Linked DNA regions of Homo sapiens: regions 1, 2, 3, 5, 6 and 7 are each reported to be linked to region 4. Evidence: microRNA targets listed by miRTarBase, many of them from high-throughput screens and not tested one by one. Region 4 holds a microRNA gene; each other region holds the end of a gene's coding sequence.
Evidence for each region. Region 4 holds the annotated microRNA hsa-miR-7157-5p (UCAGCAUUCAUUGGCACCAGAGA, at 2,752-2,774, opposite strand). A microRNA usually pairs through its seed, bases 2 to 8, with sites in the 3' UTR of a target mRNA and lowers its output. Matches are read on the target gene's strand: a 7mer-m8 pairs with bases 2 to 8, a 7mer-A1 pairs with bases 2 to 7 and ends in A, and an 8mer does both.

Region 1: the mRNA of SREK1 is a reported target of hsa-miR-7157-5p. Seed matches in the 3' UTR shown: 7mer-m8 at 699-705 and 7mer-A1 at 3,418-3,424.
Region 2: the mRNA of FHDC1 is a reported target of hsa-miR-7157-5p. Seed matches in the 3' UTR shown: 7mer-m8 at 2,382-2,388 and 8mer at 3,107-3,114.
Region 3: the mRNA of CAND1 is a reported target of hsa-miR-7157-5p. Seed matches in the 3' UTR shown: 7mer-m8 at 1,862-1,868 and 7mer-m8 at 2,625-2,631.
Region 5: the mRNA of B3GAT2 is a reported target of hsa-miR-7157-5p. Seed matches in the 3' UTR shown: 7mer-m8 at 3,064-3,070.
Region 6: miRTarBase lists ESS2 as a target of hsa-miR-7157-5p. Seed matches in the 3' UTR shown: 7mer-A1 at 1,764-1,770.
Region 7: the mRNA of GPR61 is a reported target of hsa-miR-7157-5p. Seed matches in the 3' UTR shown: 7mer-A1 at 2,825-2,831.

Annotation. Positions count from the first base shown.
Region 1 is chr5:66,178,196-66,182,539 of GRCh38, forward strand. SREK1 (splicing regulatory glutamic acid and lysine rich protein 1) reads left to right here. Exons shown (of 12, transcript NM_001077199.3): 12 at 524-4,344. The coding sequence ends at 673. Among named protein-coding and RNA genes, the nearest start is that of LINC02065, 29 kb to the right of the region's middle.
Region 2 is chr4:152,975,713-152,980,056 of GRCh38, forward strand. FHDC1 (FH2 domain containing 1) reads left to right here. Exons shown (of 12, transcript NM_001371116.1): 12 at 1-3,959. The coding sequence ends at 1,011. Among named protein-coding and RNA genes, the nearest start is that of FHDC1, 42 kb to the left of the region's middle.
Region 3 is chr12:67,312,280-67,316,623 of GRCh38, forward strand. It overlaps CAND1 (cullin associated and neddylation dissociated 1), which reads left to right. Exons shown (of 15, transcript NM_018448.5): 15 at 327-4,344. The coding sequence ends at 551. Among named protein-coding and RNA genes, the nearest start is that of CAND1, 45 kb to the left of the region's middle.
Region 4 is chr2:140,583,912-140,588,255 of GRCh38, forward strand. It overlaps MIR7157 (microRNA 7157), which reads right to left and starts at 2,774; the gene lies at 2,715-2,774. All of the region lies in intron 43 of LRP1B (LDL receptor related protein 1B), which reads right to left. RefSeq lists a silencer at 2,553-2,602.
Region 5 is chr6:70,857,766-70,862,109 of GRCh38, reverse strand. It overlaps B3GAT2 (beta-1,3-glucuronyltransferase 2), which reads left to right. Exons shown (of 4, transcript NM_080742.3): 3 at 132-280; 4 at 361-4,344. The coding sequence ends at 447. SMAP1 (small ArfGAP 1) reads right to left here. Exons shown (of 11, transcript NM_001044305.3): 10 at 3,881-4,188; 11 at 107-1,910. The coding sequence ends at 1,776. Among named protein-coding and RNA genes, the nearest start is that of B3GAT2, 97 kb to the left of the region's middle.
Region 6 is chr22:19,130,438-19,134,781 of GRCh38, reverse strand. ESS2 (ess-2 spliceosome associated protein) reads left to right here. Exons shown (of 10, transcript NM_022719.3): 10 at 307-4,344. The coding sequence ends at 586. It overlaps TSSK2 (testis specific serine kinase 2), which reads right to left and starts at 3,474. Exons shown (of 1, transcript NM_053006.5): 1 at 2,160-3,474. The coding sequence starts at 3,382. The coding sequence ends at 2,306.
Region 7 is chr1:109,543,942-109,548,238 of GRCh38, forward strand. It overlaps GPR61 (G protein-coupled receptor 61), which reads left to right. Exons shown (of 2, transcript NM_001393907.1): 2 at 1-3,319. The coding sequence ends at 437. Among named protein-coding and RNA genes, the nearest start is that of GNAI3, 2.5 kb to the right of the region's middle. RefSeq lists enhancers at 1-288, 4,201-4,260 and a silencer at 2,450-2,686.

The sequences.
Region 1 (4,344 bases), not on the chromosome of region 4:
TAGACGATTATCATCATCATCAATAACATTGATAACATTTATTAAGCATTTACGATGTGCCGGGCACTGTTTGTTCTCATTTAACTCTTTTAAATTGAGGGTAGAAATTGGAGTGCTCTTGAACAGCCTTTTCCAGGAGGCATAGTGACTTCCTTTTCCACATTTCCTTATTTTTGCTGCATTGGTTTGCAGATTAAAAATCTATCCTGGCATCCTTGGAAATTATTTCACTCTTTCAATAGATCTGTCTCCGTTTTTCAAGTCTGTCAGCAACATTTATTGAGCACTTGCTTAAAATTTCTGTTCACCAATTCTAATTTAATTTCCATGGATTGTCCATCTTTTATGAGAACACAAAGGGGAAATTGATAGTGTTTGCATATTCATTTTGTGTGAAAACGTAATGAGAGAAAATCATACCCAGTTTTTTAAATTTGCAAAAGATAAAGTTTCACATTTTTGTCGTCATAGCAGGCAGTTCTTGAGGAAAATATTAAATGCATACCTTAATTACTCATTGTAGGAGAAAGAGCACAATAAAGAACCAGATTCAAGTGTGAGCAAAGAAGTAGATGACAAGGATGCACCAAGGACTGAGGAAAACAAAATACAGCACAATGGGAATTGTCAGCTGAATGAAGAAAACCTCTCTACCAAAACAGAAGCAGTATAGGACCGACAAGTGTACCTCTGCACTCAATGCTGGAATCAAATCCAAAGCTTTTAATTCTCTCAACAAGATGTAAACAGGAAAGAAATCTAGTTGAGCATGAAGATAGGATCTAACAGCTTTTCCAGTTGTTAGATGACTTTGTGGCCATCTTGTTATTGAGTAAGAAAATAAAGCATGGACATCATGAAAATAACAGATGTTACCCAAACTCATCTTCTAAAATCTGTGCATTTCCATGGTGGCTGACACACTTGTCATGTGGTCTGTTAGTGTTTGCCAAGAACCATTGCAAATAAATTGAACATCAAAGATCCAAGTTTGTACTATCCCTAAAGACTGGAGATAAGCATTGGAGGCTCTTTTAAAAAATGCTAGTTACTGAATTTTGTATTGTTTTACTTTTTTTTTTATTTCAATATATACAGTTTGATGATGTGCTTGAAATTGGTGCAAATATATACACACCCTTGTAAGTGCAAAGTATGTAAGAAGTTTTAACATTTACTTCACAGGACTTGTGATTGTGTTAAATTCTCACTATTGTGTTTTCTTTTGCTCACTGTTTAGGACAATTTTTCTTTAAAATAGTTTTGCAGATTAAAATTGCTTAAATAAGTGGATTAAAAAACTGACAATGCATGCTACTGTTCTCTTTCAAAAGGAAGAGCAACCGTGTTGAATACTAATAATGATGAATTAGTATTCAGTGTTTAGAATCATTGGGACTACCCACAAAGTGAGCATTTCTTTTTAAATTTTCTTGACATTTCCAAGCTTATTATGAATAATATTGCAGTGTGTCTTGTCAGCTGTAGGTGGCAAAGGTGCCCTTATAAAAAAGGAAACTGGCTTTTCAAAATGGGCTATGGGAGCACAAGCTGAAGCTTTAGTGCCTTCTACAATGTGGTATACTGTTTTCTAGAATTTTATATGTGCTAGTCATTCTCAATTCATATGGAATCTAGATGGATATTTCATGCATACCCATAGAGAAGTGTGTAAGTGATATGTCAGAAGAGCTTCTTACTGATTTCACCTAAAATGAGAAGGAAGTCCTGTTTTCAAGAATGACATTAGAGTCATGCAGCTTTGGGACCATCAGTTTTATACTGTGATAATTGAAAATGAAACATGTTCTTATTTTCCTTAAATTGAAGAAAACCCTTTAGTTGTCTACATTGGATGGCCTTATTACCTCTCAATCATCTTTTCATAAATGATGTGCAGAAATTGTACTTAAGGACTTAGGAGTATATGGGAGGTTATTGGTTTTATGTTTAAGGATACGTTTACTTGAGTTTAAGATACAGGTCATCCATCATTCTTAGGCTCACTTTTTACAGAAAGTATGCAAATAGTAAAGTGACAGCACTGCTAATGTTTTTCCCCAGTACTATAACTTGTGGTTTCTGAACTCATTATTGTTGTATTTCCAAAAAAGTAATACCTTTTAATTAGTGTATTAAAAGTTAAGTATAATTATTTTAATGCAATCTAATACAATCAGATTACTCAGTTGCCTTACCTCATGGGAAGAGTTACTTTTTTAGATCTAAAAAGCTGAATAGCATGTTAGTTACTTGGTTTCAACTTGAGTTTTCTTTTAATGTTAATAAGATTGAAACTTTAGTATTTAGTGGGGAATGGAAAGAGTTGCCCTTGTTGCAAGTAATGAAGCCTGATTTGATTATGAAGCTGCTTAATCACTCTTCATGTGTTCAGAATTACTGTTTTTTTTGTTTGTTTTTCCTTTTTGTCACTGTGTACATTAAAATTTTGGAAGATGCTTTACTATGTAAAGTATAGATGGTCATTTTAATCATTCAGCCACATACGGTTGGCTGGTAAACAGCTTATTCTGATACAAGAATGCTTGGGTGCATATGGAAAGATTGTGAAAGAGTGTGTCTTGCATCAACAGCTGTCTTATTTATGATATATAAGTAGAAATAGAGCAAATGTTGGAATCTGTTATTTTTAGTACCATGTCTTTAATAAAGCTAAGTATTTTAGAGGAAAATGTTTGTTTATGCATTTCAAAAAAGCATTTTAGTTTTATCCTGCTCATTTTAGTTGTCATAGAGATTGTTGTGACGTGGAGAGTGCATGTTTGTGTGGTGTCTATAAAACAAGTCATTTAAAGTATGAGTGTTTTCTTGTACTCTGGACCTATTACATGTTTCTTTATGTTGGTAATTAACATTTAATTTGGTTCTTGCTGCTAATTATTTTCTCTGCTGATATTTATTAAGCTTTAAAATAATCGTACTATAATCTTGAAACACTGATTTGTAAAAACTAAGAATGAGTAGGAATACAAGAGATCTGGAGGAACAAATCAGATTGTTATTAGGGTTTGACTTTTTTTTTACATGGGCTTATGGAAGCAAGGCATTCTAGGGTCTAGAGGGATGTGTGTGTGTGCTTGTGTGTCCATGTGTGCGCATGCGCACGTGTGTATCTGTTTGAGACATACTTTCTCTGTTCACTTAAAAGAGCTCATGTTTTCATTTGTTTATTCTTTTCTTTCAGGGTATTTTGTTTTTTTCTTTAAGACTTCTTTTTTTAAATCCCAGGTAGATGTTGTCAGATAAACTTGAGGTAAGGCCAAGAAGACAGACATTTTATGCTTCATACTTTCTGTAATTATCTTTTGTAGCTTGATTACATAGAGTACCCTCTCTTCCTTAAGTTGTAGTTGCTATTTATCATTGTAGACAAATTCTGTTGCCTTTCAGCAACGTATGCTGAACTAGTATCATAAGATGGTGCATCAGTTCATAAGCTAGTGCATAAGTTTTGTGTCAAAACTTTTAAATCCTGAAGTTCTGCAGTTATCATCTTAGTTATTTTCTATCTAATTAGCTTATAATTGCAAACACTAGTCAGCTTGTGATCTCTGTGTTTCAAGTTCTTTTCTTCACGAGGTTCAGTACCTGCTATGTTGATCTTTGGCAGTGCCAGAGGCTTAAATTTTGACCTGCTCAATTAAAAATAAACACTGGCGTTTATAATGAAAAGGTTTTTTTGTCGGGGGGGGGGGGGTCAAGAGAATTTATTTTGTGATAGTAATAATTTTCAAGACCTTCAGTCATTCCTATGTCTATGTTGCTATCTTTATTTTAAAACTTAGAACCCTGATCTAACTCCCTTCTCAAGTGAAGATACTGTGTAGATTCAAGAATTATAATGTAGAGTAATAGGCCTTTAAGTTTTTTTTTAATCTGTTAGAAATAAAGAGCATGATTTAATTATTGTTGAATTAACAATTAAAATGAATCCCTTTGGAGGGATGGCATTGAATAACTTATAATTTCAGTGAATCATTTACGTTTTCATTGGAAGACAGTATCTGATTTCAACTGGTGCGTTACGAAGTAGAGCCATTCCCACAAAGTAAATGTGCAGTGCCCATGTTTCTTGTGTTTAAATATTTTTTATTTTCACTACATATATATTATTTTCTCATGTTTATTTACTAATGTAATTTTCACTTAAAATTAGATGTTTATTTTCAAATTTTAAAAGCTAGTGCTCTTAAAAGAGCTAAATTATATTTCTGGAAGCAGGAGTTTAGTATAAATGTAATAAAATTTTAAAATAAAATTGACTTCCCTACTTAATCTTGGGTTTGTGGGTGAGTTTGTTTTTAGTACACTCTTATTGGTGGT
Region 2 (4,344 bases), not on the chromosome of region 4:
ATGTCCTCTGGGGTTGGAGAAATGGGGGACAGCCAAGTCTCCTCCAACCCTACATCCAGCCCCCCTGGGGAGGCTCCTGCCCCCGTCTCTGTGGATAGTGAGCCCAGCTGCAAGGGCGGCCTGCCCAGGGACAAACCCACCAAAAGGAAAGATGTTGTAGCACCAAAGAGAGGCTCCCTGAAAGAGGCGTCTCCCGGGGCCTCCAAGCCCGGGAGCGCCCGGCGGAGCCAGGGGGCAGTGGCCAAGTCTGTGCGGACCCTGACCGCCTCAGAGAACGAGAGCATGCGCAAGGTCATGCCCATCACCAAGTCCAGCAGAGGCGCCGGCTGGAGGCGACCAGAGCTGTCATCCCGGGGGCCCTCCCAGAATCCCCCCAGCAGCACAGATACTGTGTGGTCACGCCAGAACTCCGTGCGGAGGGCCTCCACAGGCGCCGAAGAGCAGAGGCTGCCGCGGGGGAGCAGCGGCTCCAGCAGCACCCGTCCGGGGAGGGACGTTCCCCTGCAGCCCAGGGGTTCTTTCAAGAAGCCCAGTGCCAAACCACTCAGGAACCTCCCCAGACAGAAGCCTGAGGAAAATAAGACCTGCCGCGCCCACTCCGAGGGCCCTGAGAGTCCCAAAGAAGAGCCCAAGACCCCGTCAGTGCCCAGCGTCCCCCACGAACTACCCCGTGTCCCGAGCTTTGCCCGGAACACAGTGGCCTCCTCCTCTCGAAGCATGAGAACAGATCTTCCTCCCGTGGCCAAAGCCCCCGGCATCACTCGGACAGTGTCGCAGCGGCAGCTGAGGGTGAAAGGGGACCCCGAGGATGCCGCTCCCAAGGACAGCAGCACTTTGAGGCGAGCCAGCAGTGCCCGGGCCCCCAAGAAGCGCCCAGAGTCTGCGGAGGGTCCCAGTGCCAACACGGAGGCCCCTCTGAAGGCCAGAGGGGCTGGGGAAAGGGCCTCCCTCCGTCGGAAGGACTCCAGTCGGACCACGCTGGGGAGAATCCTCAATCCCTTACGGAAGTGATGGGTGCCTGTCCTCTCCTGCCTCCTGGGATTCAGACGGTGAAGACTGACTTCTGGGACGAGGATGGGGAAAGAGGCAGCATGTCTTTGTTACAGATAAAGCAGCCACTGGTGCCACTGCTAGTGACGCTGTTGGGATGGCACAGTCCAGGAGGCCTGTGGACTGCAGCCTGCTGTGCTGAGCCCTGCTGCAGTCCAGCGTCCAGATGGATGCACGTTCACTACTGTGACGGCCGCACCTCCCCCATGCACCCCACCCTCCCCCAAAGCCCGGATCCCGAGAAAGATTTAGTAGGAGTGTAAAGTGACATTCTTATGAAACAAGTCAAAAAAGTTTTTTTCAGGCCAGTTTTTATATATCAAAGACTTTCTTTTTAATATAAAAATTAGCTAGGTGCAGTGGTTCATGCCTGTAATCCAGCACTTTGGGAGGCTAAGATGAGTGGATTGCTTGAGCCTAGGAGTTCGAGACCAGCCTAGGCAACATGGAGAAACCCCGTCTCTATCAGAAATACAAAATTTAGCCGAGTGTGGTGGCACATGCCTGTGGCCCCAGCCACTCTGAACGCTGAGATGGGAAGGTCACTTGAGCCCAGGACCCCACCACTGCACTCCAGCCTGGATGACAGAGTGAGACCTTGTCTCAAACAAAACAAAACAAAAATGAAATGTTCTAGTTTTGGTTCCTTTTGCAGAGTGAAATGCCTCCCAGGAAAAAAATACATATGTATTTTTTTGCGACAGGGTCGTGCTCTTGTCTCCCAGACTGGACTGCAGTGGCACAATCATAGCTCACTGCAGCTTTGACCTCCCAGACCCAAGTGATCCTCCCACCTCAGCCTCCCTCAGAGCTGGGACTACAGGCGTGCACCACCACGCCTGGTTAATTGTTTTTTTTTAATTTATCTTTTGTAGAGATGGGATCTCACTATGTTGCTCAGGCTGATCTCGAGCTCCTGGGCTCAAGTGATCCTCCCACCTCAGCCTCCCAAAGTGCTGGGATTACAGGTGTGAGCCACCACACTTGGCCAGTATATCCTCAGTATGAAGATATTTTTATCTTCCTGTGTTCTCTGGCTTCAGAGTTTCACCTGCCCACACAGGGTCCGTTGCTGGCAACTGGACTTCCCCATAAGCCTTGGGTATCCTGTGATGGGCTGTGTCTCCCTGAAGATTGTCTGGCTTGCCCACTTCTCCGTGCATGACTCTGGGTGTGAGTCTGTCTAGGAACAGGAGGGAAAGTTGGACTCAGACAGAAATCAGATGCTTCCATGTATTCAGGGCGCGCATTGTGAGCAGTGGAGTATGAGCCTTGAGGGCCTCATGGTTGCAGGGCAGGCTTCCCTGCAGATGGGTGGCAGCCCCTGGTAGAATGCTGGATTTCTCTGGAATCTAGAAGTGCCATATTTTAGTGGAAAGGCATCAGGGCTGTTTGACAGTGTGCGTCTTTCCAATCCCATGTTCCTCCATTCGTGTGTCTGTTATAAAACTGAGTGAAGGCTGCTATGACCTGTGTTCACTCTGGTTACAGGGAGGTGCAAACCATTCTGTCTCCCAGCCTTTCTTCTCTCTTTGTGTGCTCCCAGCACTTCCTTCTTTTCTAACATGGCCTGGAGAGAGTCTCTCTCTCCTTGTCTCTGTCTCTTAATAATAGTTTTTAACGTGGACATCTCTTCCTTGGTACAGTGGTTTTTAAATACTGAGAAGAACCAAGTCAGGTTTTTTAAAGCAGACTAAAAGCATGAAATTGCTTTCAGAAGAATGTATATCATCGGGAAAAGTTCGGGGGCAGAGTGGGGGAATCAGGCTTTATTCAAAAGAAACAGTTGAAAACATGGGACTTTTTCTACCCAATGCCCATTTCACGACTCCTCTGAGACTAATTGGGAAACGGGGAAATTCTTGGAATTTTTTTTTTAAGAAACTTTTTTGTGTTTTTTTTAATTTTAGGTCACTTATTAGTGAAACCTCATTTTAGATCTGACATTGGTAGATAGATGGATTTAGGCAAATATGATGCGTTTGTGGGGAATCCACGTGGTTGACGTTAGAACCTCCCTTCTGCAGACTGTTGCCTGTCATCTAAGCGAATTGGAAATGCTGAGCTTCCATAAGTCAGCTGAGTTTTAAAGGTAAACGTTATGGCTGAAATAGTAAAGCACCTGACCACAAAACCTCTTGTAAAAACAGCCCTGAGTAGGTATTTCCAGGGCTCCACAAAGTTGCTTATGGGAATCCTGAGCTGCTTTTCACCATCTCAAGAAGCCTAAGAAGTTATATATTTAATCAGGTAGACAAAACAGTTCAAAGCATAAGGTCCATGGTGGTGGAAAATGGATGCAAGTGATTCTAAGTTTGTGGATTTGTGGATAGCAGAGGGATCGGGACCTCTTGGAGGAACCCTGGGTACCAAGCTCCCAGGCCCTTCCTCTATCATGGATGCTGGGTGACTTTGGGAAGTCACCACCTCTTCCCAAGCCTGTTTCCCATATCACAGATGTGGGGCCATGGCCTCGATGATGGTCTCCACAGGTCTTTCCACCTCTGTGAGTCCAAGTCAGGTCAATCAGCAAGGACCCATCTCTGCCCTGGGTCAGCTCCTCAGAACCAACCCCCAGCATCTCTAAAGCAAAAGCCTCACCTCAAGGGCTGCTCAGAAGAGAGCACCTTCAGCATGAGTTGTTGCTGGAAGATCTAATAAGCTGTGTTTCCTGGGAAGTGGTGCTTTACTTAGCCCTGTGGACAACTTCTCTATGCATCTGTGTGAGCAGATGATCATTGTATTACCTTTTATCGGTAGTAAGCTTGGAAAAATAATTTAAGAATACAATGGAGAAATGTAAATAAGTATCTATGTAAATTTGTTTAAAATAAACTGAATGTATTTAATGGTCCATTTATATGTTCTTTTATGTAACATGTAGTTTAATAAAGTTCCTGTTTATGAGAGTCATGTTTCATCTCAGCTTCTTCCATGGATGTGTCTGTGTGATCTTGCTGGGAGAGTATTCAATTTCCTGCCCAGAGAGAAGCAGAGATCCAGGAGGCTAGGGAGGGTTGGGATACAGCTGACTTGTCCTCCAAAGGCTCAAGAGCCTAAATGAGGCTGTTGGCTGTGTGTCTTCTTGATAGCACAGAACCTGCTCATAATTGAGGGCTTAGGGAGTGGGCCTTGCCCCAGGCCGTGGGGATGTAACCCCGCCTCTGACACGCAGGCTGTCGATGAAGTGCGCAGCTCACGTTATTCCATGCTGAGCTGAGTTTTTTGTCATCTCCGTGGGCCTGGCAAGTCTAAATGGTGTCCTGGGTGTCCTGCATTTTGGTTCAGGACACC
Region 3 (4,344 bases), not on the chromosome of region 4:
AGCTAGAGGAGTACTTTCTTGATGGGGGCTAAAGTGTGAGACTTGCTAAGCAGATAGTTGAAACAAAGAGTGTCCTACTCTCTTTGTTACAATCATTTGGGTCTAGATTTTCTGTTTTTATAATGGGGCTTTGTGTAAAATATTCCCTTAAAAGAAAAGGAGACAGCTACTTTAAAAATAAGTTTAAAAACAGTTGTTCTTAGAATGTAATATGCCTTATGGACCTACGAGAGTAGCTTTTAGCAGGAAGATCTTATGTGCTTAAATTTTGTTCATGTAAGAGCTGTCTTTTATAGCATGTAATCTAAGTTTACTCCATCTTACAGGTAAAGGCAAACTCAGTAAAGCAGGAGTTTGAAAAACAAGATGAATTAAAGCGATCTGCCATGAGAGCAGTAGCAGCACTGCTAACCATTCCAGAAGCAGAGAAGAGTCCACTGATGAGTGAATTCCAGTCACAGATCAGTTCTAACCCTGAGCTGGCGGCTATCTTTGAAAGTATCCAGAAAGATTCATCATCTACTAACTTGGAATCAATGGACACTAGTTAGATGTTTGTTCACCATGGGGACCATTACATATGACCATACAATGCACTGAATTGACAGGTTAATCATAAGACATGGAAAGAGAAGTGTCTAAAAGCTTCAAAATGTTCCACTTTTTTTTCCTTCATGGAGACTGTTTGTTTGGCTTTCTTCCATTGTTGTTTTTGTAGCATTTATTTCAGAAATGTGTATTTCCATAATCCAGAGGTTGTAAAACCACTAGTGTTTTAGTGGTTACAGCAACATTTGAAATGGAAACTAAAAGTTAGGATTTTATGGAGTATGGAGATAGGGTCCAGTATCTATTTACCCTGTAATGTTTAGGATTAAAATGTTAAAATTTTGTGACCATGAATTTCTTTCTTTTATAAATTTTCTCATTTAAAAATCAAAAATCTTGCAAAACAAAAACCATGTTTCTTTTTCTTGTATAACTTTTTGTTTTCAGCAACATAAATTGATTTTTAGCTGGCAGACAAGAATATCCATATAAGATTTGTTAACCATTTCAGAGAGTTTGGCAATTTTTAAAAGATAATAAGGTATCATTTTTAAGTATGAAAATTAACAATATCCCTGTTGCGCACACTAATTTTGCATGAGTAAGTTTACAAATATGTATCGTCTGTAAAGCAGCATGTGCAGATTATTCATAATATAGAAGTTAAAATAAGTATTAGTGCAATTTTCAGATATTTATTTTTGCACAGAAAACACATTATCTGGAGAGAAAGAAAGGAGAATTTTTGAGACTTGGGTTTTCTTAATGCCAGTGTGAATTTGCAGATGTTTTCAGAAAATCAAGTCACAGTAACAATTTGCCACTTTTTTCTATTATAAATCTTCTTACTTAAATTTTGAATATTTAGTTTTTCTCAGTTACCCATTTGTGTGTGTGTGATTCCACTTAGAAATTCTTAAAACCAGATTTTTCTTTCATTCCGTTTGGATGTCTACATTCCTTATCAAAGGATATAAATACTGTGTATGCTTTTGAATTTTATTTTTAGGAAAATTCTGAAGCCAGCTATCACAGGTTTGTTAGCTAATAATAGTATTTTCTTTTAGTTGAGTTAGGTTTTTCCCCATCTCCTGTAGAGCGAATTTACATATTGTATTGGGTAAGTGTTCACTACTTTTCCTGATTAAGGGATCTGTGCTGGGGAACAAAGCTTTTGCAGTACCTTATATTGTAGTTAAAATTTTATTTAACATATCCTTCAGTGAGCTCATTTCACACTGTAGCCTCTTCCTTAAAATTTGTGGTGCTCCTGTAACAGTAAGAACTAATTCTGAAATAAAAGACATCTCCTAATGCTGTGCAAACATAGTTTACATGTATTGAAGGAGGCAGTTGTTAAATTGAGTGACCAATTTAAGCAATCAGATATTTGAAAACTGCACCCTTTAGTTTTGAAACTGTGAATTAGAAACACTTTTCCTGCTGTATTACTACCTGCTTTAACATCCAAATATACAGTGATTTTAAATGATAACATACTGTGGTTATTAGATTAACAGCTTGATTTTGAATGTTCAGATGATAATGCAGAAGACATCACTTCTAGTAAGGATTTTGACTAGTGCATTGATGTTGAAGTTGGTGCCATTTCAAAATGTGGCAGGTGATAATCTTTTACCATAATTTGCATAAAACTGTAATAGAAGTTTATTTTGAGATGTTAGTATATTATGTACTATGCATTTCTGTGGTATAGATGTTGTGGATATATTTAAGTATTTGGTTACATGGTTTTACAATAAATTACAATACTGCAGGCTCTAGGACTGAACAGGAGACTGACATGCATATGTTGTGTGAATGTCTTAGTTGGGTAAAGTTAAATCCAAATACTTCAACTGGCTTTTTCTTCAGTTTGTTTGTTTTTAACTTTCAAGATGCATGTTTTGTTTTGTTTTGCTTTGTTTTTGTCTCTTAAGCCAATTCATTTTTCTAACAGTTGAAATTCTTTTAGTACTAAAGAAATAGATACTGCTCTTTTATGGCTTTAGTGTTTATATACCTGTTTATATGCATACATTAACAAAATTAGTAACAGCAGTGCTTAGAATTTCAATGCTGTGTCATACTGATGATTAACTCCATACTCCTAGTGGTGATGTGGTCCAGATACTGGAATGGAAGTGGCAGGATGTGGAGTCCAGACATAGTCTACCACTCATGCTACTTACTAGTAATATTAAGGTGTTAAACTTAGGAATTTGTCACATGTAGGTTCCTGAGGAGATCTAAAAGTTAATACAAAACCAAGCTGTTTACTGATTTTCATGAGAACATTTAAGTTAGTTTAGGTCTACCTGATTTATTTTAAAAGAAGGCAGAGGGCTGGACGCAGTGGCTTACGCCTGTAATCCCAGCACTTTGGGAGGCCGAGGCGGGCGGATCACGAGGTCAGGAGATCGAGACTATCCTGGCTAACACTGTGAAAACCCATCTCTACTGAAAATACAAAAAATTAGCTGGGCGTGGTGGCAGACGCCTGTAGTCCTAGCTGCTACAGCTGAGGCAGGAGAATGGCGTGAACCCAGGAGGCGGAGCTGGCAGTGAGCCGAGATCACGCCACTGCACTCTGGCCTGGGCAACAGAGCGAGAGTCTGTCTCAAAAAAAAAAAAAAAAAAAAGGCAGGAAGGAAATTTGGTATGGCAGGGCCTAACCTAAAAGGTTATTTATAAAATCAATAGCACTGAATGATAATTTTTTTAATGACAGTCATGTATTTTATTAATGATATCTGAAAGCTGCTTAACCATTAGGAATTACAATTCTTTATGGTTGGAGTATGATGATTTCATCAAATGTTTGAATATTTACATAATTTTTATGTAACCATAATTAAACCAAATTAGTCTTTTTTTCTTCATACTTTTCTTCGGTAAATAGTGAAGAAATAATGGGCATATCTAATTAACCAGTTCTAGTGGGTGTTGTGATATCTTTATATCTAGTTCAGTCTCAGATGTATGAATATGATTATATAGTCATGATTGAAGTTCAAAATGAGGAAGTATACAAAATCCTCAGCCACTGAAAAATTCAGTTAACTTGTTTATACTCCTGTAAGCTCTAGTTAGTCACAAGACAAAGTATATAGTAACACTTTGTAATGAAGTAACATTTTCTGCCCACATTAATTTTACTAAAGACCTAAATTGTTAAAATTAATTGCCAATCTCTGGATATATTATGCTTAGTAAGTGTTTTGAAATTAAAGACCTTAAACATTTCAGCAAGTAAATTTTGGATTCTAGCTCTGTTTTAAATTGAATCCTAATTTTCAAACCACTGCTACCCCAGATTCATACCTGTTTTTGAAATCTTGTTTATGGAATGGAAAATTGACAGTATGGTAATAGTTTATTGACTGATTGGACAAAGGATATTCTGGTTTTAACTGACTTTTCCATTTAAATAAAATTCATTTGATAATTTTGGTTGCAAAAGTGGAACACAGTGGAAGTATTTGGCTACAGGCTACCCAAATCTCATCAGATAAGGCTGTTTTCTTAAAGGAAATGCAAAATGAAATCATATGTTTTCCTTTTCCAATACAGTAAATTGCTTGTTTTCCTATGAATATCAGAAAAGATTTTGTAAACACCTTTGCTGTAGTTTCAGGCAAGATCTTTCAGCAACATGTTTTTGCTCTTTGTAACTTAGAAAGTTAGCTCTGAATCCAAAAACTACTGAAGTGAGTAATGCATATAATTTTACTTTTTTGGACCCTATAATGCCAGTGTGTCAGGTTTCAGAATGATATTTAGTAGACAGAAATA
Region 4 (4,344 bases):
GTCTTCCCATAATGTCTTGGTTGCTAGGAAGTTCAGAAAAAGCACATGCTTGAGTTATTTAGCTGTAGTCATACAATACCTGAGTTTTTATTGTAAACTAGTTTAAATAATATTTAAATGGTTAAAATAATAATTAGTTTTAATCTTTTTTATCATTTTAAATGTTCTCAGAGAGTCAAACACAGGGAAATATTGCCTCAAGCTCAAATAAATTCATGTTAGTTTTCTTATGTGTAAAACTTACAAAAAACACATTATAACCTGCTCAAGAACAATACAAAAAATAAGAAATTCAGAGAAGAGAAAAATTAATATAAGTTATTTGAGAATTTTATGAATTCAAACATGAAACTTTTAAAACTACTTTTCCTTTTATCTGCTCAATTATTTCACCAAAGGAAATATTTTTAAGCTTATTTGTATGCTTCTCCCTCTGTTCAGTTTGTAAGCAAAGTTAATTTGGAAGAAATGTGCTCATATATATATATATATATATATGAGCAGAATGGCTTTTGTTAGCTATCTGTTATTTTAATCTTTGTAGATGAATTTATACAATGAGGCAGGTAGGAGAGGTGGCTGCTGGCCTTTTGATAAATTCTATCTGATGCCTAAAAATTGAAAGTTTCTAGGAAATGTTAAATCAATCCATCAGTATCAGTATCTCATGCTGAAGGGACACCAGTTATTTTCTGGATGAATACACTAGTTGCCCTAGATACTGACCATTATTCTTCTGTAAGAACACATCTCTTTTCAGACAGTCTGGCTTCAGTAATACTTTAATTTGCAAGACTAACCAAGCTGAACCATCACTGAAATGTATGTGGACTTAAATCAAAGGAATTGTGTAAGAAATAAACACTATTAAGCCTACTGCAATATCATTCCTATCTTACTGGATAGGAATATCAGTTACCCTGGATAGCTGAGGCCTTCAAAATAGCAAAATTTTGATTTTGGCCTTTTCTTTTTTTTAAGCTCTTTGTTTTTTTCATTTTATTCAGAGCATCCTTTTTATAATTTGTCTTTTAGTTTATTTACTCGTATACTCATTTCTTCAGTGAATTTTGCTGAACATAGCAATGCATCAGACTTTGGGTATATTGCTTTTGGAGATACAAAGATGAAAAACAAATTGCCTTTCTTTAGATGTTATTATTCCTACAAAAGAGGAAATGAGGCAACTTATGATTAATTATATAGTTATCATTCATGTTTATACAAATGTGTATGTGTGTAGTGAATGTAGTTACACAATTTTAAACTTGGTTTATTTTTTAAATTTCATAATTCAAGGGGGGATTTACAAGAATTAACGTTTTAACTCCTCAAAATGCATCCTATGAGGCATAAACTATTAGTCATATTCTACAGCAGAAATTAAGGTGTAGAAGGATTAAGAAATGTCCTCGGCTTACTAAACAACAGGTCTTATATCTAAGTTTCAAATTCATGTCTAAACAATCTAAGTTTATTAATTTCTCCCACATCATACTGCTTCCTGAAAAGCAGTATGTTCTATTTTACTACCAAGACTGCCTCCATGTCTAAAATATTCAAGATGTGGCACCATCTTCTTATGTATATGAATGTGTTATAAAATATATATCAAATGGCTGATCTTAGAGTTGGAAAATAATTTTAAGTCTAGCCCAAAATGTCAAATCTGAGATTCAAAAAGATTAAAATAATTGCTCAAGATCACACAGTTTTTTTGAACCAGTCCAACACTGAAACAATGTTATCTAACACTAATTTTAGTTTTCTTTTCACTTATTTCTTATTCTCACTTAGACACCTATATTTGGCAATGTCATATATTCATATAAACTTTATTATATACTCTGTGATCACATCTACACATTATCATTAAAGACAATAAAATTTAGACAACACAATCAACCATCTTTATTTTCATAATCTTTATTTCCCTTAGGTGGAAAATCAGTGATTTCAATGTCTTTGGCCTGCAGCTCATGCCATATCATGTGTGTTTAATAAGTCTTTAATAAGTCTTATTCCTGTTTAAATTCATTGGCAATGCAAGGGCCTTGTTTTACAGACTTATAGAACATAAATCAGCTTAGATCTTTAAAAGTGTCTTTAAAAAAACTCAAATAGATGTTTCCCTTTTTTTCTATTCTGAATGTCTAAAAATCTATGAGCACACTAACTTATGCTCCTAGAAAAATGGACTAGACAGACATTTCTTGATCCTTATGTACAACTTAAAACTCTAGAAATTATACATAAAACAAACATAAGGTGACTATAAAAGTAGAGAGAAAAAGCAACCCAGCTGGGTATCTTGGGACCAAGAAATTCCATGGAAGTGTGTTTCCTAAGTGTCATTTTGTCTCATATATCTCAGACTCAAATCGTATAAGCTGGCAACCCAGAAATGGCAACATACACAGAAAAAATAAAAATAATAATCTGCTCTCTCTAGCTAAAAGACCAGGAAAGAAACAACCTAGCAAGCACAGCAGAAAACTTTACTATAGCCAGCCACCACAGGAAAAAGGCTGTGACACACCCACACCAGCAAAGGCCAAGTGGGGATCCTGGGCTTCCACACACCCCTGATGGTAATGAAGTGTCCACCCCTTCTCTGCTGAGGTGGTGTCAGAAGCAGCTCACTGGAGGGTCAGGACTTCCACCATCATCCTCTAGGTGACACTGTAGAGGCCATCTAGGTAGCCTGAACTCCCACTCTTCATCCAGTAGCACAGAGGAGTCCCAATTTCATCTCTGGTGCCAATGAATGCTGAATGGGGGACCTGCTACTCCGATAGGGTAGCACCCCTCACTTTCCCCTCCTAGACCGATGTCAGGGAAAGACAGTTAAAAACAGAAGGGTTGAAAATACGGAGATACATGCAGTAGAACATGTTCAAGTTCAAACAAAATTACTCATCATACCGAGAACTAGGAAGATTTCAAAGAGACTGAAAAAATCACAACTAATAGATGCCAACACCAAGATGACAGGGGTGTAAAAATTATCTGAAAAAGATTTAAAAGTAGCTATAATAAAATTTTTTTAAAAATAAAGGCTTTAGGAAAGAAATGGAAAATCTCAGTAAAAAAAATAGAAGAAAGAAACCGGAACAAAATGGAAATTTTAGAACTGAACGTAAAATAACTTAAATAAAAAGTTCAGTGAATAAACTCAACAGCAGAATGGAGGAAATGGAAGATGTGTCAGTAAACTAAAAAGTAGAATAATAGAAAATAGCCAGTCACAACAACAAAGAAAAAGCAGAAAGAAAGAAAACTGAACGAAGCTCCAGTGACCTGTGAGACTATAGTAAAAGACCTAACATTCATGTCAAAGAGTCCTACAAGGAGAGGAGAAAGCGTGGGGCTAAAAAGGACTTGAAAAATGTCAAGGCTGAAAACCACCAATCTGGCAAGAGACATATACCTACAGATTCGAGAAGCAGACTAAAGCTCAGAGACTATAAACCCAAGACGCATCATAATTTAACTTCTGAAATTGTGATTTGTGACAACATGGGTGAACTTGGAGTACATTATGCTAAATGAAATGAGCCAGACACAGAAAGACAAATACTTCATGAGCTCACACGTGGTATCTAAAAAGTCAGACTCTTATTAGTAGAGAGTAGAATAGTAGCTACCAAAGGCTGGAGTGAAGATGGGATGGGGAATAAGATGTTGGTCAAAGGATACAAATTTCCAGTTAGACACGAGAAATTAACTTTGGAGATAAATAGCACAAAAATTAGTAAGTACATGGGTGTTATGATTAACATGTTAATTAGCCTGAAGAATCATTCCACAATACATACATATATCAAAACATCACCTTGTACTCCTGAGATATACACAATTATTATTTGCTGATTAAAAATAAAAATAAACTTCTGAAAACTAGAGACAAGAAGCAAATCTTAATAGCAGCGAGGGGGAAATGACATGTTACATAGAAGAAAACAATTTTAATAATAATAGATATCTCATCAGAAATCACAGAGAACAGAAAGAAGTGGCCCAATATTTCTCAAATATGAAATGAAAACTGTCAACCCAGTGACCTATGCCAAGTGAAAATATCAGAAATAAAGAGAACATCAAAACAGTCTCAGATGAAAGGAAATTAAGATAATATGCCACAACAGATGGCAAAGAATGGACAAAAGGAATTTTCGAAAGCAATAGGGAAGTAAGCAATTAAAGAAGAAGCCTGTGAACATCAAGAAAAAAGAAAGAACACTGTGAGCAAAAATACGGGTACATAAAAGTAGGCTTTCCTTATACTGAGTTTTCTAAGTTGTTTGATGGTTGAAGCAAAAAAAATCTAACACTGTTGTGTGC
Region 5 (4,344 bases), not on the chromosome of region 4:
ACTTTGTAAACCAAGACCTGACACACAGTAGGTATTTTAAAAACTGTTTTGATGTGACCAAAATTATACAGAAAAAAAGAGAAGTACACCAGGATTTTAAAGTCTCTTTTTTTTTTTTATTTTTCACAAAGGATTTGCTGTAAGTCTTCAAGTCATTTTGTCCAATCCAAAAGCTGTATTTAAGCGTCGTGGATCCCAGCCAGGGATGCAAGAATCTGACTTTCTCAAACAGATAACAACAGTCGAAGAACTGGAACCGAAAGCAAATAACTGCACTAAGGTATTCATTACACTTGTGCTGCCCGACCTCGAGTGTCACCATGAAGAGTGCGCTACCCAAGCTATTTCCTTCCCCTTCAGGTTCTCGTGTGGCACACTCGGACAGAGAAGGTTAATCTAGCCAACGAGCCAAAGTACCACCTGGACACAGTGAAAATTGAGGTATAAATTGAAGCAGCAACTGGTGCAGTTTGTCCAGCCAGTGGATCCATATGGAAGAGGATGTTTGGAGTTTAGGCTACAGAGCATTCAGGTATTGTTTGTTTTACTTCAGTACAGCAGCCTTTCTTGTCATCTGATGGACATCTGTTTAAATGGAGCTTGTCAGTTAACATAAGCTAATTGGATGGTTGGTACAAAATGTATGTTTTGTCTTCATTTGTTCTGCATGTTTTCTCTACAACAACTAAATTGGAAGATTTTTTTGTACAGTGCCGATACTGCAAGATACCACTCTTGAGTATATATTTTTTCTTTTTCTCCAATTTGCCCTTATAATTGGTAGACTTGAACAGGTTGGTAGACTTGAACAGGTTTTTAAAACAGACAAGTATTTTGTCAGCTAAACGTTCCTGATGATTCCTGACTTTGCAATACTAAGTAATTTTTGGAAGGTTAGTGGCAGTATACATCATAGGAAATAAAAACCCACAAATGAAAAGGTCTATGGAGTCATGTTTAATGTAGGGAAATAACATTTTGTCAATACTAGGCACCATAAAATGTAAACACAATTACTGTCATAAACCTAGATATACCTTCAAGGATTGAAGATTGAAAGTGGCTTTGTTTTAGTTAGTTACCCTGTTTGCATATAGTGCAGAAAAAGGTCTTCATGTTAGCACTATGTACATTAAGAAGAGATCCAAATTACAAGAGAGGCAGATAAAATTTGAATTCTTTAAGCATTCATTAAACGAAGTTTTGGAGTAACATCCACGTTTATCTTCCTTTCACTAATCACGTTCCCTGTTAAGCACATCATAACAACAGCACAGTGAAGTGAATGATGAAATAAGAGCATTTTGATACACTAGAAAACAGTGCTCAGTGAGACATTTACATTCTATTTATATGATTAAACATTTGATCATACAGTACCTTCCTACAGGATTACTGGCTAATTTTGGGGTGGGGTTTATACTATTAGAGGTATTACTAACATGATAACTACTTCCCTTATATGCAAACATTAGAGCTATAATTTTATTGAGAGGAAAACTGATTTTGCAAGTTGAGCAGCTTCTCAAATAATGCAGTACATGAAATCATGGGAAATATGAGCAAAGCTGCCCTTGACATAAAATGATTTATCAACCTGCTTTTCACCACATCAAATTGAATCAGTACAGACCAACACGGTCAATCAGATCATTCTTAATATGAACAAATGGGTAAAAAGAAAAAAAATATGCATATGAATAAACAGGGGAACTAGATGCGTTTCAGCAAGGAATGTCAGGTGGTAGTTCTGGATGAAACTTGTATTGCAGTTTTCATTTCCACAGTTGTGTGCTGAGAGTCTGACCTGATGAGCTTCCAGACCATCCTGCTGTTGTGCTGGAGGGCTGGCCAAAACCTGCAGTAGGGGTTGCACTACTGATACTCATGCCAGCCATCTGCTGATTCATCTGTGAAACATATAAAAGGCTTAGTTCAAGAGGCTTACTTCACTTTTAATTCTTGTTTCTTTAGCCACACAGTTGGTCATTTTTTCATTAATGTGACAACTAGTCCAAGCACTGGAATAAAAACAGAGTACCATACAAATATTTCTTAAAGCAAATAGCTACTTTGTTCCCTTCTTTATCTACTTTCTAGATACAGTTTCCCCAAAGATTAACCACAACTTACTTAAAAAAAAATACCAAAGCAATCTTGGGATTTTAATGAGTCCGCTACTCTAACTAACTTTCACCTACACTAGGATATTGTGCTTTAACTACTAAGGAGTAAGAAAATTTTAGGAAGTAAAATAGTCTAAAATTATCCTATAAACTTTGTATGATAGATATTATTCTCTATTAAAATCTTATATACTTCCTAAATATTTTTAAAGTGGTCATAAAGCATTTATTTCTCTCGCTGATCTAACAACATAAACATCTAAAATTTATTTTCATTGTATGCAATAAAGCATAAGATTACATGTATTTTTCTTCAAGACTGGAGTCAAATATATATATATATAAGCATCTTAACCCTGTGATTCTCTTACTTCCAAAATTGGTGATAAGAGAAGGAAAGGCAAGATTTACCATATAGTGAGTGGGTTTAAAACTTACACTCAGAGTTAGACTGTGTTCTTAATTTAATACATTTGACTTGACTTATTTACAGTTTCAAAGACACTAACATAAACTACATCACTAATCAGGCATAAGTGTCTGAAGAAGCAGATCACGTCTTCATACCTACTAAAGGACATTTTAACCACCTTGTCATTGGCCAGTAGATTGCACTGATGGAGTGCTGGAGAACAGCATCACCCTTCTGCATTATCTGGAAGTAAGAGCCAGTATTAACTCCTTCCTGGTTCATCTAGCACCTTAACCTGAGCTGGGTGTGCTTCAGCATGTTGACCATGTGACTGACACTTAGCACATACAATTTTTTAGATTCCCAGCGGGTAGAGACCAATGTTTTACCTATATTCTTGTAAATGGTGGTAGCAAAATTAACTGTGATATATAGTGATTGTGCTAATGTTAGAAATCACTCTAGACTATTCCCTGAATGCTCTAAAGGTAAAACAAGTGACCAAACAGAAACCAAGATTGCCAAAATGCTGGAGGAACATCAATGGGAAGTGTAAAAGGAAGAAGAGTGGGAGCATGAACCTCTCTAAGAGCCTTTGTCTGTGCAGCTAGAGAAAAGTCAGAACACAGCACCTGAAATAGAAATGTTCTATCTCAGCTCTAACTTAGGTAGAAATAGGATTTTATAATATGAGGGGATGTCTGGTTCACACCTTATGGGAATTGAATCTTTTTGTACTCTTTTTAAACATAAAAGTCATTATAGGGTATGTAAAAAGAAAATACAACTTTACAAAGGTTTCTCAACAAAAAGAATTTTTACAGAGCCATGGGGCAGTAATCATCCGACCTGAAAAATAGCCTTAGATCCCTCATAAAATAGTGCTTTGAGAATATGAGGCTAGATTTTTATTTTCTAATAAAAGATCCTAAAATTATTAGTGAAGCTAAGTTGTCTAAGTGGACTGTAAAAATGTCCCACCAGCAAGCTGGATAAAGCTTAGTGCTAATCTCAGAGGTGACAGAGAGGGAGTCTCATGATGCCTGAGATAATTTCTGGCCATTAGTGGTGTTCACGTTACAGTTACATTACAATTTGAAATGAAAGATGTTTAACCTTTTTTTTACAGAATACTCTAAAATAGCGATAATAACACATCATTTGTCTATCTGATACAACTTCATAATATTTATAGATACTTTTGACCCTATAACATATTATCCCTATTGAATTCTTTCTGCCAGATCACTAGACTTAAAAAAAAAAAAAAAAAAAAAAAAAAAAGATTTAGAAAATAAATCTGGTTTGATTTGGGAGAAGCTAGAAAGTAAATGACCCCTACCTGTGAGAGGCTCCACTGGGGCTGCTGAGCTTGCGGCAGGCCAAACTTACTCTGGGGTGCACCCATTTGTCCCACCATTCCTCCTTGGGGGCCAACAACGTTCTGAGGAAGTGGCATCACACCAGTTTGTGCATTTCCCATAAACCCATTGGGCATGGGCATGCCCACCATCATGCTTGGACTCTGTCCCATCACATTTCCTATAAGGCCAGGAGCTGCAGGCACAGGCACGCCCATCGATGGAAAGCCCTGAAATGCAGCTGGTGCTTGTGAGGTAAATGGTATATTTGTGGGTCCCATAAATACACCTGCACCACAAAAAGAAAATGAATGAAGACAGAGCTATCACGTGTAGTTGCACTCATCTCTATAATCACAGAAAAATTGCCTTTCTGAACTACTCACAGCAAACATTTTAATTCCAGTTTGGCTGCTCCTACTACTCAGACCAACCCACACCTAAA
Region 6 (4,344 bases), not on the chromosome of region 4:
GCCCTGTGGAGAGAGTCATCGTTCCCCTTGGAGAGGGGTGGGGACTCCAACTCTCAGAGGCCTGGGGGTGCACCCCAGCCCCCACAGCCAAGGGCGGTGCTGCTGTTTGACCTCAGGTTTGACCTGAGCGCTGCTGTTTGACCTCAGGGATCCCCCGCATTTGCTGCCATGCTGGCAGTACCATCCTCCTCAGCTCAGAGTGACTGTGTCTCTGCCCAGGCTCTTCCTGGGAGCCAAGGGAGGCCCTGCTGCCGGCAGCTCTCAGCCCACCTAACCCTGCCTCTCTCACCCATTCCTCCACCCCAGCCTCACCCCCAAAGGCCTGAGCCCAGCCATGTCGCCAGCCCTACAGCGCCTTGTGAGCAGGACGGCCAGCAAGTACACAGACCGGGCCCTGCGGGCCAGCTACACACCATCCCCAGCACGCTCCACCCACCTCAAGACCCCGGCCAGTGGGCTGCAGACCCCCACAAGCACACCGGCGCCTGGCTCTGCCACACGCACCCCTCTCACACAGGACCCGGCCTCCATCACGGACAACCTGCTGCAGCTCCCTGCCCGGCGCAAAGCTTCGGACTTCTTTTAGAGCCAGGCCTGGGCTGGGCTCATAGACGCTTCACAGAGCCTGCAGGGCAGCTGTACACCCAGCAGAGGACTCCAGCCTTCTCGGGGCCCAGGCCTGGGCCAGAAGCTGTTGACCATACCAGGAGTCACTGGAGAAAGGGGCTGTGCTGGGGCCAGACTGGCACAAGGCACTCGTGCCCACACCACACCCCAGGGCCTTGCCAAGCTGTTTGCTGTTTAATTGGCCCCTTGAACTGTCATTAAAGAACACCTAGGTACAGTCTGGGGGGTTGCCTCTCCATCTTGCTCCCCACACGAGCCCTAGCCTTGCCCTGGGGCCTGCATCACGTCTCAGGACTGCGGGGCTTGAAGCGAGGGGCCCCCCAGGTGAGGAAGCTGCAGGTGGGGCGGCTGTGGGAGCACCGGGTGACTGGCGTTGCTTTCTGCGGCACTCGGAACCTGTGTTCTGAGTTGAGCTCACATCCTGCAGTGCTTTCTGCTTCTCTGGGGGGATATGAAGGAGAAACGGAGCCCTTGGAAGTTGTACCCTTAGGTTCCCCTGCGGTTCTGGGCCCAGGTCTGCAGCCTCCACTCTGGGCTTGCCGGCTGTGAGGTGCGCTGGTTATAGGACTGTGTGGGGGCTGCATATCAGGTGATCTCAGCTATCACCTTCTCCCAGCACCTGGCTTCCAGCTCATGGGGTGGGACTATCCCACTCACCCCTCTGCTATAGGCACTGCCCATCTTATGCTGCTGGCCCTGGCCTCACCTGGTCACTTCCACCAACAGGAGCTCCCAGATAACAGTGGGTTGCTGGACAGATCAGGCTGGGACTCTTAAGGGGTGGGGGACGTGGGGCCTTCAGTGCTTTATCCCCTAGGAAAGGGTGCACGTTATCCCAAGGGAGCCCCCAGGAAGTGGGGAGGGAGGGGGGAGGAGCATGTCTAGGTGCTGACCACCTGGAGCACTTGGCCAGCAAGTGGGCCGCATGCTTTGGGAGCAATGGGTGACCCAGCAGGAAGCACAAAAGACCGGCCAGTGTGCCATCATCAAGGGCTGCTGAGCAGCTTGAAGAGCCACTGGGTGGGGAGGGCACACGGGGAGGTCTCAGCTGGGGCTGCCCCTGGAGGACAGGGCAGGGAACTTGAGGGCTGAGGACAGAAATCTCACATGACTCCAGGAAATAGAGGAAGAGGAGGATGCTGAGCGAGGGATTGTGAGGGAGTGGGGGTAGGTCAGAGGGGGCTGAACTGCAGGAAGCCAGGGGGAGTCGTGGACCACTGGAGCTGGCCAGCCCCAGGGCATTGGGGACAAGGCCAGGTCAGAGGGAGACAGTGTGGGCCTGGTGGGTGGACCCTGGCAGAGGCCCTCTTGTCCCCCACAAGGCCAGGCCACACTGTGATTCTGCCTGTACCTGAGCATCTGTCCTGTGCTCCTAGGCCGGAGACCACTGTGTGTCAGGTGGGGCGGTTGGCTGAGTCCCAGAGAAAAACACTCCTCACTGGGCACTCTTGATGCTTGCACACACCCTGTGGTTTATTTGGTGGTCAGTAAGGAACGTCTTTGCTGCTAAGTGGAAGAAAGCTAATGGAACGTAATCAAAATAGTGGTTTAATTGACGAATTTTACTTGCACCTGTGCCTTCTTCAGATCCTACCTGCCTACTTAGTTTACGTGAAGGCCGACTGCACCATGCCCCCCAACCCCGACCCCCACCACACACAACGGGGCCATTGTCATGCTAGGTGCTTGCTTTCCCCACCTCAGCTCCGGAGATGTGATGGTCTTTGGCCCTGGAGGTCTCGGCCAGCCTGTCCTCCATCCTGTTCTCGTTCTCGGGCACCACCAGCAGCCGGTGCTGGGTTTTGGCTCCAAGCTTGTGGTCGGGCCGGTGGTCGGGCCTCAAGCCTGTCTTGGTGTCCAGTTTGCACTCAGCGCGGTACTTGCCCTCCCCCTCCCTCTTGAAGGAGGCAGAAGACGTGGCTTTGGGCTTGGGGGGCTGCAGCCACGAGTGGCTGAGGATCTCATCGATGTGGAGCCGCTGGCTGACGTCGGGCTGCAGCATGCGGTAGATGAGGTCCTTGCACTCGCAGGTCAGGTTCTTGGAGCGCGGGAAGTCCACACGGTGCTCCTTCTGGATACGCAGCATCTTCCTGATGTCGGAGTCGTCATAGGGCATGGAGCCGCAGACCATGATGTACAGGATCACGCCCAGGCTCCAGATGTCATACACCTTGGGCTGGTAGGGGATGCTCTGCAGCACCTCGGGGGCTGCATATGCTGCCGACCCGCAGAAGGTCTTGCTGAGGATGATGCGCCCATTGCTGTCCCGCAGGCAGCGCTTGGAGAAGCCAAAGTCAGACAGCTTGATGTTGAAGTCCTTGTCGAGGAGAAGGTTCTCGCACTTGAGGTCCCGGTGGACGATGTCCAGGTCGTGGCAGTACTTGACGGCGGAGGAGAGCTGTCGGAACATCTTGCGTGCCACGTCCTCATGCAGGGCTCCCTGGCACTTGATGAACTCGAGGAGGTCGCCCTGGACGCCAAGCTCCATGATGATGTAGATCCGTCCGTCAGAGGTCTCAAAGATCTCGTAAGTCTTGATGATGGAGCCGTGGTTGACAGTTGCCAGGATGTCCATCTCCCGAGGAAGGAATCTCTCCACAAAGTCAGTAGGTGTTTTCTTGCGGTCGATGATCTTGACAGCCACATTGAACTTGAGGCGCTCAGAGTAGGCAGATTTGACTTTTGCGTAGGAACCCTTGCCAAGATTGATGCCTACGATGTAACCCTTCTTCCTTAGGACTGTGGCATCGTCCATGGTGCCAGGAGCGACTGGCGCCGCTGCCGTCTACATCCCCCCGTCATGTGGGCCAGCAGGCATTGTCCTCATTTACACTACCGGAGGCGTCTGGCTGGGCTGCCCTGGGCTGGGCTTCGACTCAGGGGTGGAACACTCAGCATTGTCTCCGGGTGACTTCAGCCAATGAACTCATAAAGCCAAGGAGTGGGGGCGGGGACTGGGCTGAGGGAGAACAGGGTCTCTGGAACCGTGGAAGCCAGGCTGGTCTGGCAGGAGCACCCACTCCCCGCCCGCTGGAAGGAAGCCTGTCCCCAGGACAGGACTCTGGTGGCCCTGCTGCTGCTGCATTGGTTTCCCTGTCACAAGTCAAGCTGGAGGGGAGGCGGCCCACGTCCAGCCTGTTTGCATCACCTGGCTGTGGGGACTGACCCTGCATTGGTCTTTGTCCCACTAGGGTGGGTTTCCTGCAGCTTCTTTGGCTATGAAGAAAAGCACCCCCAGGGCTGTGTCCTTGGTGTGGTAGGACAGTTGTCCCTGACAGTCACCCAGACAGGCCTGCATAGCACCCCAGTTACACAGACAGATTTCCACAGCACTGCCTTACCATTGAGCACATAGTTAAATCTAGGGAAATCAGTGCCCAGACATCAAAGCTAGAAATGAAACATGGTCAGCAGGAGCCTTGCATGGGCTTCTCTTTTGCTGGAGCAAGCCAAAATAATAGGAACGGTTTTACATTCCTAGTGCCAGGACCCATCTCGGGTCGACAAAATCTGAAGACAAGTTAAGGGAACAGGCAGCTGTTTGAATAGATCAATTGGATAGTCTAAGGCAGCTCTCTGGACCAAGCTGTAAAGGAGATACAATCGAAATAATCACTCCGGTACCACAGTAGACAGGCCTTGAAGGCACTGGGCCCCTTTTAATCGGACTTAGCAAGCATTTTTTTTGCCTCTGACCTTCTCCTTGGAACAAAATTA
Region 7 (4,297 bases), not on the chromosome of region 4:
ACCTCTATGTTGCCCTGAGTGCTCAGCCCATTTCAACTGGGCAGGTGGAGAGTGTGGTCACCTGGATTGGCTACTTTTGCTTCACTTCCAACCCTTTCTTCTATGGATGTCTCAACCGGCAGATCCGGGGGGAGCTCAGCAAGCAGTTTGTCTGCTTCTTCAAGCCAGCTCCAGAGGAGGAGCTGAGGCTGCCTAGCCGGGAGGGCTCCATTGAGGAGAACTTCCTGCAGTTCCTTCAGGGGACTGGCTGTCCTTCTGAGTCCTGGGTTTCCCGACCCCTACCCAGCCCCAAGCAGGAGCCACCTGCTGTTGACTTTCGAATCCCAGGCCAGATAGCTGAGGAGACCTCTGAGTTCCTGGAGCAGCAACTCACCAGCGACATCATCATGTCAGACAGCTACCTCCGTCCTGCCGCCTCACCCCGGCTGGAGTCATGATGGGCCGCTGGACACTCGGAGGGATATGGGGCTGGGGCCAGTTATGATTGCAAGGACCACCTTGTGGGATCACCTTTTCCCAGCTGGCTAGGGCTGAGGCTGGGGTCTCTGCACACAGCTTTTGCTTAGTGTTTCCTGGGTCAGGAACAGAGCCAACAGGATGAACGTGTGCAAAAGCCTTGGACTTGGCTGTGATCTTTGACTGCTAGGGGAGGGAACCTGGGTATGGTGAGACGGTGACGAGAGAAAAGGGTCACAAAGGTGAGGTGAAACCTCTCAATTGGTGAAATTTCCATGCTTCCAGAAGCAGGGAATTCTCTAAGGGTAGGAGTTGGAGGATACAGGGCAGCAGGCCAGGTTTGGAGTTATTCTAGGGGCCATTTAGGATATTTTATTTTTCAGTGTAATTGTCCAGGGCAGTAATTGCACCCAAGCAAGGTAAGAAAATGACCCATGTTTTCTCATTTCCTTGCTAGGTTTAAAAAGAACTAAATTATAGCCAAGTGTTTCCACTTGAGTTAATAGATCATTTTTCTGGTTTTATACCTGAGATTTCCTTAAAATGAGAGGACCAGTAGGGTGTATTCCTTTACTGAGTTTGGCCAGAAACAAGGCAAAATAGAAATTAGGGTACATGGAGTAGAAGATAGGAAAGCTGACTGCAGCTCTCTCTCTCCCACCCTTCAGGAAAAGCCCTTCTGTTCTATTTTTCTGTCTCTCTCCTGCACACAGGAGATCAAGGGTAGAGCCTGATCTTAGCAGAGACAAGAATAAGGCAGGATGGCTTTCCTCTCTTTTAGGAGGAAGAATTAGAATGACTGGGGGTCAGACGGGCGAGGGTGGAGGTTAGCATTTGAATTGGTAAAGTAGCTGGAAACAGAGAGGCCAGGTAATCAGCCTGATCAATAATACTGCGAATCTTTTCTTTCCAGGACTGGCCTCCCTGATCTCTCTCCTCATGGCAGCGACCCACCTCCAGTCCCCTGGACAATCGGGTACAAGAGACTTAAGGTTGGGCATGGGAAGGGTGGGGTTTCCATGATCCATTAAATGCCTTCCTACTCCCATTCATCGCTCTCAAAATTAGCTTCAGTGACAAAGACTTAAATCTCTCTCCTATCTGCAGCACTGGGTTGGAGAGAGGGCACGGGAGTTGGTCTTGGCTGTTCATTGATTGAGACTGTAGGAACTGTGTTGGTTGGTATTGGTGGTGGTATTTTCAACAAACAGGGAATAACTGCAAACTGGACAGGACACCCATCTGGGACCACCTGTCCATCCTACTTCCCTCAATTGAATCAGGTAACACTAACGGATCAAGGCAGGGCCAGAGGGTGGTGTGGTCTCTATTTGAACAAATTCCTGGCTCACTGAGCATCAAAAGGGGAAATGGGCTGGTGGGAGTGGGATAGTCTCCCATTTAAGCAGCTAATAAATAATTTTTATGATAAAAGGTTATACTGATAACAACATTGACTCCTTTAGTTCAATTCAGTGCATAATAGTTGAACACCCACTAGTCCCTGGGACCCACACAGGGCGTGTGGTCATTGCTTTTAAGGAGTTCATAGTCTAAGTTGATGAGATACCTTATATTTTCACAAAGCACTTTGATTTGATAAAGCACTACAGAATGTGCTTGAGAAATATATTGGAGAATATGTCCATGGCTCTAACTTCTGAGAGTTCAGCCCGTGGCAGCAAGATGCATACCTTGAAGCTTCCTGCAGATTGTGGAAAGCATAGGGGTTGTAAATGAAACTCTCTAATGAAGAAAAAAAATTAAATGAAACTGGGCAAACAGCTTTCCCCCTTTGTTCTAGGAAAATTTCTAGGTTGTCTTCCTACCACTAGATTATTATACCAGTCTAGTGCCTATTACATTGTGGAAGTTCCCTAAAAACATAGTATATATAGGGAGGAGAGTCCTTTGTGATTGAAAAACATGTTCACCTCTCCTCCCTATTAAAATAAATGCATACAGAGGAATCAATCATTCCTAGACAGGGAAAAAACTCTTCTTTCAAACACCACTGATCAGCTATTAGATCCAAGGAATTGCCAGCAGGTGGCAGTGTGAGCCCAATGGAAGGAGGAAAGGCGAGTGTACGTGGTGGGAGGAGGAAGGGGAGGGCATTAAACATTGCCTGGCAGCCATTTTGTTAATTTATTTTGCCTTTTCCTTTGACTTTGCCCTCCAGCCCTTCCTTCACATACATCAAAGAAGAAAGTTTTAAGAGCAAGGGTATCTTTAATTCAGGCTGAAATTTCCTGACACTGTGATCTCACTGGTGTTTATTACAGAGTTTGACATACATGGGTTCATTTGCCATTTATTTTTCCCTGTAGGAGTGGATCATGAAGGAAATAAAAATTTCTCTTTTATTATGCTGAGAACTTTCCCAACAATTTCTGCTATGACCACCTTCCAGGAGTTTTCTAGTCACCAGATGCCTTGGTAAAGTTCAATACGTAATCTTTGGCTCTGAAAGCTGTTCCTGGACAAAATCTGAGCTAACTCACTGAAGAATCAACAGATTGAGGCAACCATCCGGTCAGTTACTTTTTCCTGCATCCTGCTGGTGTTGGGGTAACTCCCAATCCTAGATGAAAACCTTAGACTTTCTGTTGTCAGGTGTCCCCAGGCAATATCCTACGGGGGCATGATAGAAAAGGGTAACTCTGGGGTCAGATAGATGTACTTACTCACTGTGTGAAGTTGGGAAAGCTGCTTAATTTCTCTGAGCCTACTTCCTCACCTGTAAAAATGGGGATCATTATTACCTACCTCACAGGGTTGTTGTGAGGATTAAGAGATGGGATGTGGGAGCACCTAGCCGTATCTGGCAAATAGGTACTCAATAAATACTGGTTTTACTTCCCTTTCCTCTTGCCCTTTTTCCCCAAAAGTATTGATAATGGAAAAGCAGTCCCTTTCATTCTTAACAGTCATTTGGGAATGACTGGGGGACTTTTCAAACCTTGAAGAATTGGCATTGCTAAGAGTTAAGGTGGACGAGGCTTTTTAAGGTGGCTCTAATCCTCTAATTAAATCCTTCTAATTAATGAATCATCACTATATAAACCTCTCTGTTGGGACCTTACTTTCTCAAGTTCAGATTCTATTAGAGAAATAAATTTACAATCACAGGGAAAGGTTTTAGGGACTGAGTTCCCTTCGCTAGAACGTATAGTAATTGTGGGCTTATTTGCCTGAAAAGTTGATTTAGGACTACCTTCACGCAGTATCCAGGGTTATTAGTGAAAGATGCTATCTGCCTGGGACTTTCACAGTGGACTTAAGTTTCAGGTGATACTAGGGCTGAGAGGCAAATTTTACTAGAACCTCTCCTTTTGCATGTTATCGCAACAGGAAATTTTAGTAGGAGATTCACAGGATGCACTGGTTTGTTTCGGGGTGTGGAATTGAAGTTGACTTATCTTGGTTTTAGTTCTAAGACCCTAAGGTAGGAAGATCTGAATTATACTGGAGAGAAGGGCAGCATGGAAATTTTATGGAGGAACTACAGGCTTACCTTTCAGGTTATCGAGTATCTGCTAGCGATTTCAAGTGGCCTTTTGCCAATATAGGAGTTAAGCAAATCTCAAGCCCACAGAAATACGTGAATAGCAAAAGGACCAGGGGACATTTTGAGAGGAGTCAGTGGGCCAGAGACGGCAAAAAGTTATTGCTGAGGTCCTAAGCACAGTCGGTGTTACGATCTCAGATGTGAGACGTGAACGGCGCCCAGGCCGGATAGCTTGTTCCCATTCCATTGATCTGAGATAACCCCAACGGAGGCAGTGTCCCATACTTGGGTAGGGGTCCCGAGTCTCCACAGCCAGAGATCAAAGGAGTT